Regions from separate parts of the Homo sapiens genome. Here region 1 is linked to region 2. The links come from fine-mapping of genetic effects on gene expression. A gene starts in region 2. The other region holds a variant in brackets. All regions are shown on one strand. Distances are from middle to middle. Region 1 overlaps FAM222B (family with sequence similarity 222 member B). Region 2 holds the start of ALDOC (aldolase, fructose-bisphosphate C).

Region 1 (4,387 bases), 260 kb after region 2:
ATCCCAGCTACTCAGGAGGCTGAAGCAGGAGAACTGCTTGAAGCAGGAGAACTGCTTGAGCCAGGGAGGCAGAGGTTGCGCTGAGCCAAGATGGCGCCACTGCACTCCAGTCTGGGCGACAGAGTGAGACCCTGTCTCAAAAAAACAACAAATAGGCCGGGCGCGGTGGCTCACGCCTGTAATCCCAACACTTTGGGAGGCCGAGGTAGGCAGATCACAAGGTCAGGAGATCGAGACCATCCTGGCTAACACGGTGAAACCTCATCTCTACTAAAAATACAAAAAATTAGCCGGGCGTGGTGACGGGCACCTGTAGTCCCAGCTACTCAGGAGGCGGAGGCAGGAGAATGGCGTGAACCTTGGAGGCGGAGCTTATAGTGAGCCGAGATCGCGTCACTGCACTCCAGTCTGGGCGACAGAGACTCCATCTCAAAATAAATAAATAAATAAATAGAATTTAAAAACAAAAAAAAGATTTTTGGCTGGGCGCGGTGGCTCACACCTGCAATCCCAGCACTTTGGGAGGCCGAGGCAGGCGGATCACCTGAGGTCGGCAGTTCGAGACTAGCCTGGCCAACATGGTGAAACGTCATCTCTACTAAAAATACAAAAATCAGCCAGGTATGGTGGTACGCGCCTGTAATCCCAGCTACTCAGGAGGCTGAGACCAGAGAATCACTTGAACACAGGAGGCAGACGTTGCAATCAGCTGAGATCTCGCCATTGCACTCCAGCCTGGGCAACAGAGTGAAACTTGGTATCAAAAAAAATAAAATAAGGCCGGGCATGGTGGCTCATGCCTGTAATCCCAGCACTTTGGGAGGCTGAGTCGGGCAGATCACAAGGTCAGGAGATCGACACCATCCTGGCTAACACGGTGAAACCCCGTCTCTACTAAAAATATGAAAAGAAATTAGCCAGGCATGGTGGCGGGTGCCTGTAGTTCCAGCTACTAGGGAGGCTGAGGCAGGAGAATGGCGAGAACCCGGGAGGCGGAGCTTGCAGTGAGCCGAGATCGCGCCACTGCAATCCAGTCTGGGCAACAGAGCAGGACTCCGTCTCAAAAAATAATAATAATGATAATAATAAGCCAATAAATATTTATTTTAGCCCCTGGTATGTCAGAGATTCACAGGAAGTCCTTAAATCTCCAAAGTTCCTCTCCCACTTTAGAAAAACTTCTCACACGAAAGGCAATCAAGATACTAGCCCACCCCTTTTTCTTCCCCAGGGAAAGAAATCCTCATTTTGTAAGGTCATTTACTACATAAAAGTAACCACAAGTAGGAAAGATAACAGAAGGAGAGGAGGACAGGAAATTCTCATCACAGCTGAACAAACCTCTATTATTTTAACATAACATGGGTGGCATTTATGCGCTTATTTGAACTGATGGAAATTTCCAGTAGGGGGAAAAATGCATTACCAACATTAAAAATAAATGTCCAACTATTAAAAAATAAAATAAGATAGCTATGCCCAGCTTTAACATTTTATACTCTACTCCATGTAGTAGTCAAACATGGAATAAATTTCTGTAATGACCTATCACAATAGTAACAAATGCTTTATTTTTAAAACTATTATCTTAAACAAAGTATTATAGACAAATAATCTATTGGGACGGTCAAGGAACTAAAGTAAAAAGGTTAAAATTATACATCACTGTGCATTTCCAGGAAAGAAAAGTGAAACACATTTTACCAGACAGAGAAGTTAAAAACAACCAGGTTCATTTTTCCCATTCCTGTAAATTCACTCCCCTTATTTGTGAATCTTCAAGAATCTAGTATAGCCCCTCCCTACCTTTACTCAGGTAAAAGACCAATCACTCATCAATTGCCAAAACGCCTTGACAGTTTAAGGTCTCAATCCTCAGAGTCAGCAAAGCTGAAGTGTCTATGTCCTTTTAAAAGGAGTCTGCATCTCTACTTTAGAAACCATTTTCTCACTGCGCTTGGTGGCTTACGCCTGTGATCCCAGCACTTTGGGAGGCCGAGGCAGGCGGATCACCTGGTTCGAAACCAGCCTGACCAAAATGGCGAAACCCCATCTCTACTAAAAATACAAAAACTAGCCGGGCATGGTGGTGGGTGCCTGTAATCGCAACTACTTGGAGGCTGAGGCAGGAGAACTGCTTGAACCCGGGAGGTGGAGGTTGCAATGAGCCGAGATTGCGCTACTGCACTCCAGCCTGGGCGACAGAACAAGACTCTGTGTCAAAACAAAATAAAATAAAAAGAACCCATTTTCTCTTTCCATAAACACATAGTTTGTCCTCTGCTTTGTCTACATTAAAAAACACGTCTCAGGAGTGTTTCTTCAGCCTCTCAGGAAAACCAAGACACCTCTTGGGCTCCTCTTCTGA[G/C]ATATTCCACCTGAGAGATCCCACTGACAAGCAGGGTAACAAAAAGCAGAGCTAGAGGGCTGCCTTATGCATATCTGACCTCCAAAACAGCGACAGGTCCCCGGAGCAGCCAGAGACTCCTTTGCAAAGGAGAACTTTTTATAATTTAAAAATAATAAAATGGGCCAAGCACGGTGGTTCACGCCTGTAATCCCAGCACTTTGGGAGGCTGGGGCGGGCGGATCACCTGAGGTCAGAAGTTTGAGACCAGCCTGTCCAGCAATGGAGAAACCCCGAGTGTACTAAAAAAAATACAAAAATTAGCCGGGTATGGTGGCACGTGCCTATAATCCCAGGTACTAGGGAGGCTGAGGCAGGAGAATTGCTTGAACCCAGGAGGCGGAGGTTGCAGTGAACCAAGTTCGCACCACTGCACTCCAGCCTGGGTGACAGAGCAAGACTCCTTCACCCACCTCAAAAAAAATTATAATAAAATAAAATAAAAATAAAGATAACAAAATAGCCAGGCACGGTGGCTCACGCCTGTAATCCCGGCACTTTGAGAGGCCGAGGTGGGTGGATCACCTGACGTGAGGAGTTCAAGACCAGCCTGGCCAACATGGTGAAACCCCATCTCTACTAAAACTACAAAAATTAGCCAGGCGTGGTGGTGGGCATTTGTAATCCCAGCTACTCAGGAGGCTGAGACAGGAGAATCGCTTGAACCCGGGAGGCGGAGGTTGCTGTGAGCCGAGATGATGCCACTGCACTCCTGCCTGGCGACAGAGCGAGACTCCGTCTCAAAAATAAAATAAAATATAATAAACAAATTATATTTTCACATCCCTCACTGGGCAGCCCTCCCAGCTTGTCTCAAACTAGTTTTCTTAACTCTTTTTTCCAGACGGAGTCTCGCACTGTCACCCGAACTGGAGTGCAATAGCACTATCTCGGCTCACCGCAACCTCTGCCTCCCGGGTTCGAGTGATTCCCCTGCCTCAGCTTCCCAAGCAGCTGGGATTACAGGCGCCCGCCACCACACCCGGCTGATTTTTTGTATTTTTAGTAGAGACGGGATTTCACTACGTTGGCTAGGCTGGTCTCCAACTTCTGACCTCGTGATCCGCCCGCCTCGGCCTCCCAAAGTGCTGGGATTACAGACATGAGCCACTGCACCCGGCCTTTTCTCAACTCGTTAAAGCACATTAGTGCCAACTGTGTTATAAGGCAACATGAGTTAGCTATGTTCAGAAAATATTTTAATAGATTGGCCCTCCATCCTTTCGGGTGAGGAGCTGCAAACCGTTTGTAAAAACGCCGGAGTACGGTATTTTTCCTACAGAAGTCTGATGGCTAATTTATCACATTACAGAACTGGTAGTTCTGCACATGGTCTGCTGTGCCCATAAAGAAAGCACATATGTGTCTACTGAGGTTTTACAAACAATACGCTTCTTATCTTAACAGAGAAATCAGTCATTCCATTAACAACGGTAAGGTCTAAATTCCACTAACATTGTTGGTGATACATTAACATCAACATAGTACTTACAATTCACAATTTGCATAAACAATCTCAATTACATAGGTGATGCTTGCAATAGCCCGTTTGAAGCATGACATCTTCCTGGTGTTCAGAAAGGTTAAGTGGGACCTGCCCAAGGTTACCTAACAGCTTTATCAATGGTGGACTTCCTTTCGAACCTGCCTGACTCTAAGCCCCTAGCTCTTTTCCCTAGACCCCTCCCGGCTTTCAAAAGAGGGTTCCCGACTCCCATCCTCTACCCAGAGCAGCCTATTACTCCGGGAGACCGACCCTTCCCCTGCCTGGTTCAGAGGTGGCTTCTTAAGCTCCAGCAGAGCTTTCATCCTCCACCACCCTCCCCCCGCAATCATTCTCTGAAAGAAGCGGAAAGGAGAGGCGACCAAAAGCTCCTGGAGGAAGGGATGATACAAATGGGCTGCTTCACTCCACAGCACGCAACCCCGTCCCCCTCCACCAAGCTGTCCAGCTCTGCGGCCGGCGACCGGGCCACCCGT
Region 2 (4,387 bases):
AGCATCAACTATCTAACACCTCTTTGGTCCTCAAGCCCACCCATCCTATACCTTGAGTGGTGGTTTCTCCATCAGTCCCAGCTAGAGGCACCACACCCTTGTCAACCTGTAGAGGAAGTACAAGCAGAGGGTTGAATCCAGGCAGGATTCTCCTTGCTACCCCTCCTACACAAGCTTATTTTCACACCCAGCTTCCATTCAGAGCAGGGCCAGGGGCTGCACCTTGATGCCCACGACGATGCCCTTATCCTGGATGGTTCGGACGAAGGGAACACCATTATCATCTTTCTGGTAGAGGGTCTCATGGAAGAAAATGACGCCTCCAATGCACTTTTTCACACGGTCATCAGCACTGAACAGGACCTGGCGGTACAGCCGGCGGTTCTCCTCTGTGTTTTCCACCCCAATTTGGCTCAGCCGCTTGGCCATGCTGCCTAGGGGCAAACAAAGAGAGGCAGTGAGAACATCCCCAGGGTCCCCTAGCCACCTGTACCCTACCTGGCTACAGATGTCCACTTACCTACAGACTCATCCGCAGCCAGAATGCCTTTGCCCGGGGCTACAATCCGCAGGGCAATGTCAGACAACTCCTTCTTCTGCTCAGCAGAAAGGGCTGGGTACGAGTGAGGCATGGTGACAGCTCCCTGGAGTGGAGACAAGATAAAAAAGCCAGACCTCACCCTCTGCTGCCTCTCCTGGCCAGATGGGCCAAATGGCCTCCCCATCAAGCAAGGGGCTGGGAACAGGGCAGCAGTCCTTGGCATGAGTCCTGGGCATCAAGTGGCACCAGTCCTTCTGACAGCTAGCAAGCTTAGGGCTCCAGTTCCCACATCTCCTTTTGTCCCTGGTAGGCATCCTTCCCAGCCCTGGGGAAAGATGCAGGGTGGGGGTGGGGAGGTGAGCAGCCCTGAAGCCACAGCTCTTCTGATAAATCTGCTGCCCAATCAAGGATGCCAACCCTTCTTTCACTGAACTTGGTCCCTTGTTGAGGTAGGCAAAAGTCCTGGCCTTTCCAGCTTCCCTTTTCTCATCCTCCACAGGACCCCTAGGGAAAGTGTACTTACTTCCAAGGCTTCAGAATGAGGCAAAAGTACTTATTGCCACCCTCTTCTCTCAGCTTCTAGAGGAAAAGGTTGGAAGAACAGGTAGGGAGTAGGAGTGGCACAAATACCAGTCACAGGCTCCTGCAGCTTCTCCTTTTCTGTACTCCAAACCTGCCTGCCTATGCCTATTGCCTATTCCCACCCAGTACCAGAGGTTGGCCCCAGTGGGGCTGCAGTGATGTAGGAAAGAGGGCCCAGCGGGTCAGCTGTGTTAGTGTGTGGAGACTAGGGCTAGTGACACCTCCGGGTCATCTCTGTGCCCAGGAAGCACTTCACCTGTTTGGCAGGAGGATAGCAATAGGAAGCACTTCAATTCCCCACAACTCAGACACCCAGACGGGAGGGCAGAGGACCAAGGCTGAAAGGAGTAGAGAGCCTGAGAGAGAGATGAGACTGAGGGGAGCTAGTGGTGATGCAGGCTAACCAGTCAGCGGGAGAGACCTAGACCGGGGGGCAGAGAAGGCGGGAGAACTGGAGAGAGGACCTAGCCTAGGAGGAGAGGGAGCAGGCTGAGAAGGAAATGCTCTGGGTAGGAGAGACAGACTCCAAGGAAAAATCCAACAAGTAGAGGAGGATTTGGGATTGGAAAAGCTGAGGTCCAGCTGGGAGAGCTGAAGAGGGATAGAACAGAAGAGGTTGAGCCATGGGGTTTCAAGTACGCGGAAAGGAGCAAAGATGTTAGGAAAGGGTCGAAAGGGCACATCCCGGAGTCCCAGGTAGCAGGACGAGGATGGCAGGGGAAGAGCCAAGGAAATGAAGCGGAGATGTTGAGTGGCTCCCGCCTTGCCTGGCCTTACCTGTGCGCAGCCAGTTAGCAGCCGCAGCCACAAGCACAGCTCGGGTTCTGATCCGCAAACAGATGAGGCTGCAGCCCTGGCTCCCTCTGGTAAATGAGGCTGCGGATGTCGCAGAGCTACGTGACTCCTCCGGGGGCGTGGCCTGCATGCCCCGCCCTGACCACACCCCCTCCCCAGGACTGGTGTCCGGGGCAAGACCACGCCCTCAGAGGCGGGGCGGCGAGGTGGAGTGAGCGCCCCGCCAGGCATCCGTGGCTGTTAGGGACTGCCCTCCCACCTCGGGGAGCCTGGCCATGACCTTGCGTTCATTTCTGCCACAATCCCTTTACCACGTGCCGGGCACTTGCTGGATGCTGGGGATTAAGCTTAGTCTGGTGAAGAGGAGGCACCAGAACAGTAACAACAGGTTGAGTAGGTGGGGCAGAAGCATCTTCAAGGTGCCCAAGTTCAGGGCAGGAAGTAATGAACTGAGCTTCTCTGTCCTCACCCCCATATTTGCCAGGGTATACCCCCGAGGGGGCTGGGGAAAGTAAGAGAATGAAGCCTTTCTGTTTCCTCCAGGCGGTGAGCCAGGGAACAAGCAGTCCAGTGCCCAGAGTTTTGGTGAAAGCAGAGGAAGGGAGGAAGGGCAGGCAGCCTTGGCTTTGGATGCAGCAGGAGGTGGAGAGGGATCTATGGAGGGTGCCCAGGCAGGAGGCCCAAGCTGCTTCTTCCCTGACTTCATCATCCGCCCCCTCTCACCCAAAAAGTAAGATTCCGTAAGCTTGGAGAAATTCATTAAATACACTTTATTTAAATAGCATTTATCTCAGTTGGCTCTATGCCAGTTGGTCTTGGTATTGGGGTAAGGGGGTATTGCAGGTAAAAAGAGGTGAAGCAGATTCTGGCTTTCAGTTTCTTAGCTCAGAAATTCCAGCAATCCCTGTAGTTCTTTGCATCCCCTCACCACCTCTGGAATAGAGAGCAGGGTCTGGGAAGAGAGGCAGAAAACGCAGCTCAGGACCACAGACTTAAGGCCCAGGGCTCCCAGCCCCAGGAGGCAGCCGCTGAATTAGAGGGGAGAAAACAGACACCACAGAGAAGCCTGCAATAGTGATTCAGGCCCAGCTCTCAGCACAGGCTGGGAACCAGATCTGTGCTCATTAGTACCTCCTGGGGCCAGGCCTTGTACCAGGTTCATTAGTGATATCACCTCCCTCCTGCCTATACCTTATAAATATGCTGAACAATGTCATCTAGTTTTTCTAACTCCTTGTCAGAGCGCCGAAGGTTCTCCTCTAGGATATTTCTCTAGAAAGCAAACAGATTTTATAAGTCCTATGCATAAAAGAGCAAACTTGGTAGGACAGGGGAAACATGGCGGGGCATTTGTTAACGATGGTAGGAAATGGCCCTGGAATGGCATGGACATTCTTACATGGCTCTGGAACTTGATCATGAGTTTTTCCTTCTCATTTTTCATCTCCAGGAACATCACTCTCAGTTTGTCCACCTAGAAATATGTCCAGATCAACAGGGGTACAGCCTGGGGTCCCCACCTGCTGTCCAGCTCCTCTGTTAACTCTGAGTCACCTCCTGAGAGAGCCACACTTTCTCCTGGATCCAATTGGTGGCCATAGGCTGGCAGTTGGAGTCCAGCTGGCCTGCCAGGGCCTCCTGGAGCACTTTGGTCTCTGTCTCCGCACGCCGAAGTGAGCGGGTAAGGTGGGTCACCTCCTCTCTAAGGCTCTGGGAATGAGAATGGAGAGGTGTCCAATAGGACATAAGGATAGACAACATGTGGTGAACAAAAGCAAACCATTTCTCATACTTGGGATCCTGGCTGACCAGTAACACAGAAGGCAAAGGCCTGGGCATGATGGTGAACATACTATGAGCTCGCCACTCTTGTCTATCTGTTCTAGGATCTTCTCATTCTGCTGCTGTATCACTTCCTGGAGCTCCTTTTCATTCTGTGAGGGAAAGGGAGGTGAGAAGACACATGAAGAGCTGGTCTCTTCACAGCCCTTGCCAGGAGGTAGGAGAGAGTGCCTGACCCATGCTTAGCCCACATGGGACCAATTGATATCACGCCAATTCTTTCCCCAGGGCCAAGCCAGGCAAGGCACATTTCAGTGTTGGGAGAGCTCTGCTAGAGTTCCTGACTTCTCTCCTGAGTCAGCCTGGGAAGACAGGTCAGCCCATAGCTGACATGTGAAATGTCTGACCCCAGGAAGGGCAAAACTAGGGCAGTGGTTGGAAAATCCCCACCACCCAGATTCCTGGAGAGATAATGGCTCCCAGTGGGCCAGTAGAGCTGCCCCAGTTCTTCATCGCCCCACTTCTAGGTCCCTCCTTCACCTTGTAGCGCAAGCACAAGGCCTGGTTCAGCTTCTCTATGTCTGCTTCTTTTGCCTTCTGGACTTCCTGATGCTGTTCTTCCTGGGCCTGCAGCCTAGCTTGCAGCTCACAACTGAAGGAAGGAAGAATTTAGCAACATTCCTGTCC

What was found. PIP is the estimated chance that this variant, and not a neighbour inherited with it, causes the effect. A credible set is the group of variants that fine-mapping cannot tell apart.
Region 1: its variant is the best candidate, but not a certain one, in a credible set for the expression of ALDOC in whole blood (TOPMed, PIP 0.68).

Annotation. Positions count from the first base shown.
Region 1 is chr17:28,838,145-28,842,531 of GRCh38, forward strand. All of the region lies in intron 1 of FAM222B (family with sequence similarity 222 member B), which reads right to left. Among named protein-coding and RNA genes, the nearest start is that of FAM222B, 2.5 kb to the right of the region's middle. RefSeq lists enhancers at 1-383, 4,225-4,387. The variant G/C (reference allele first, on the strand shown) is at 2,369.
Region 2 is chr17:28,574,901-28,579,287 of GRCh38, forward strand. It overlaps ALDOC (aldolase, fructose-bisphosphate C), which reads right to left and starts at 1,995. Exons shown (of 9, transcript NM_005165.3): 1 at 1,901-1,995; 2 at 521-644; 3 at 223-434; 4 at 52-106. The coding sequence starts at 632. It overlaps SPAG5 (sperm associated antigen 5), which reads right to left. Exons shown (of 24, transcript NM_006461.4): 19 at 4,241-4,352; 20 at 3,772-3,852; 21 at 3,473-3,628; 22 at 3,318-3,392; 23 at 3,110-3,190; 24 at 2,674-2,870. The coding sequence ends at 2,799. RefSeq lists a silencer at 1,928-2,167 and an enhancer at 2,218-2,397.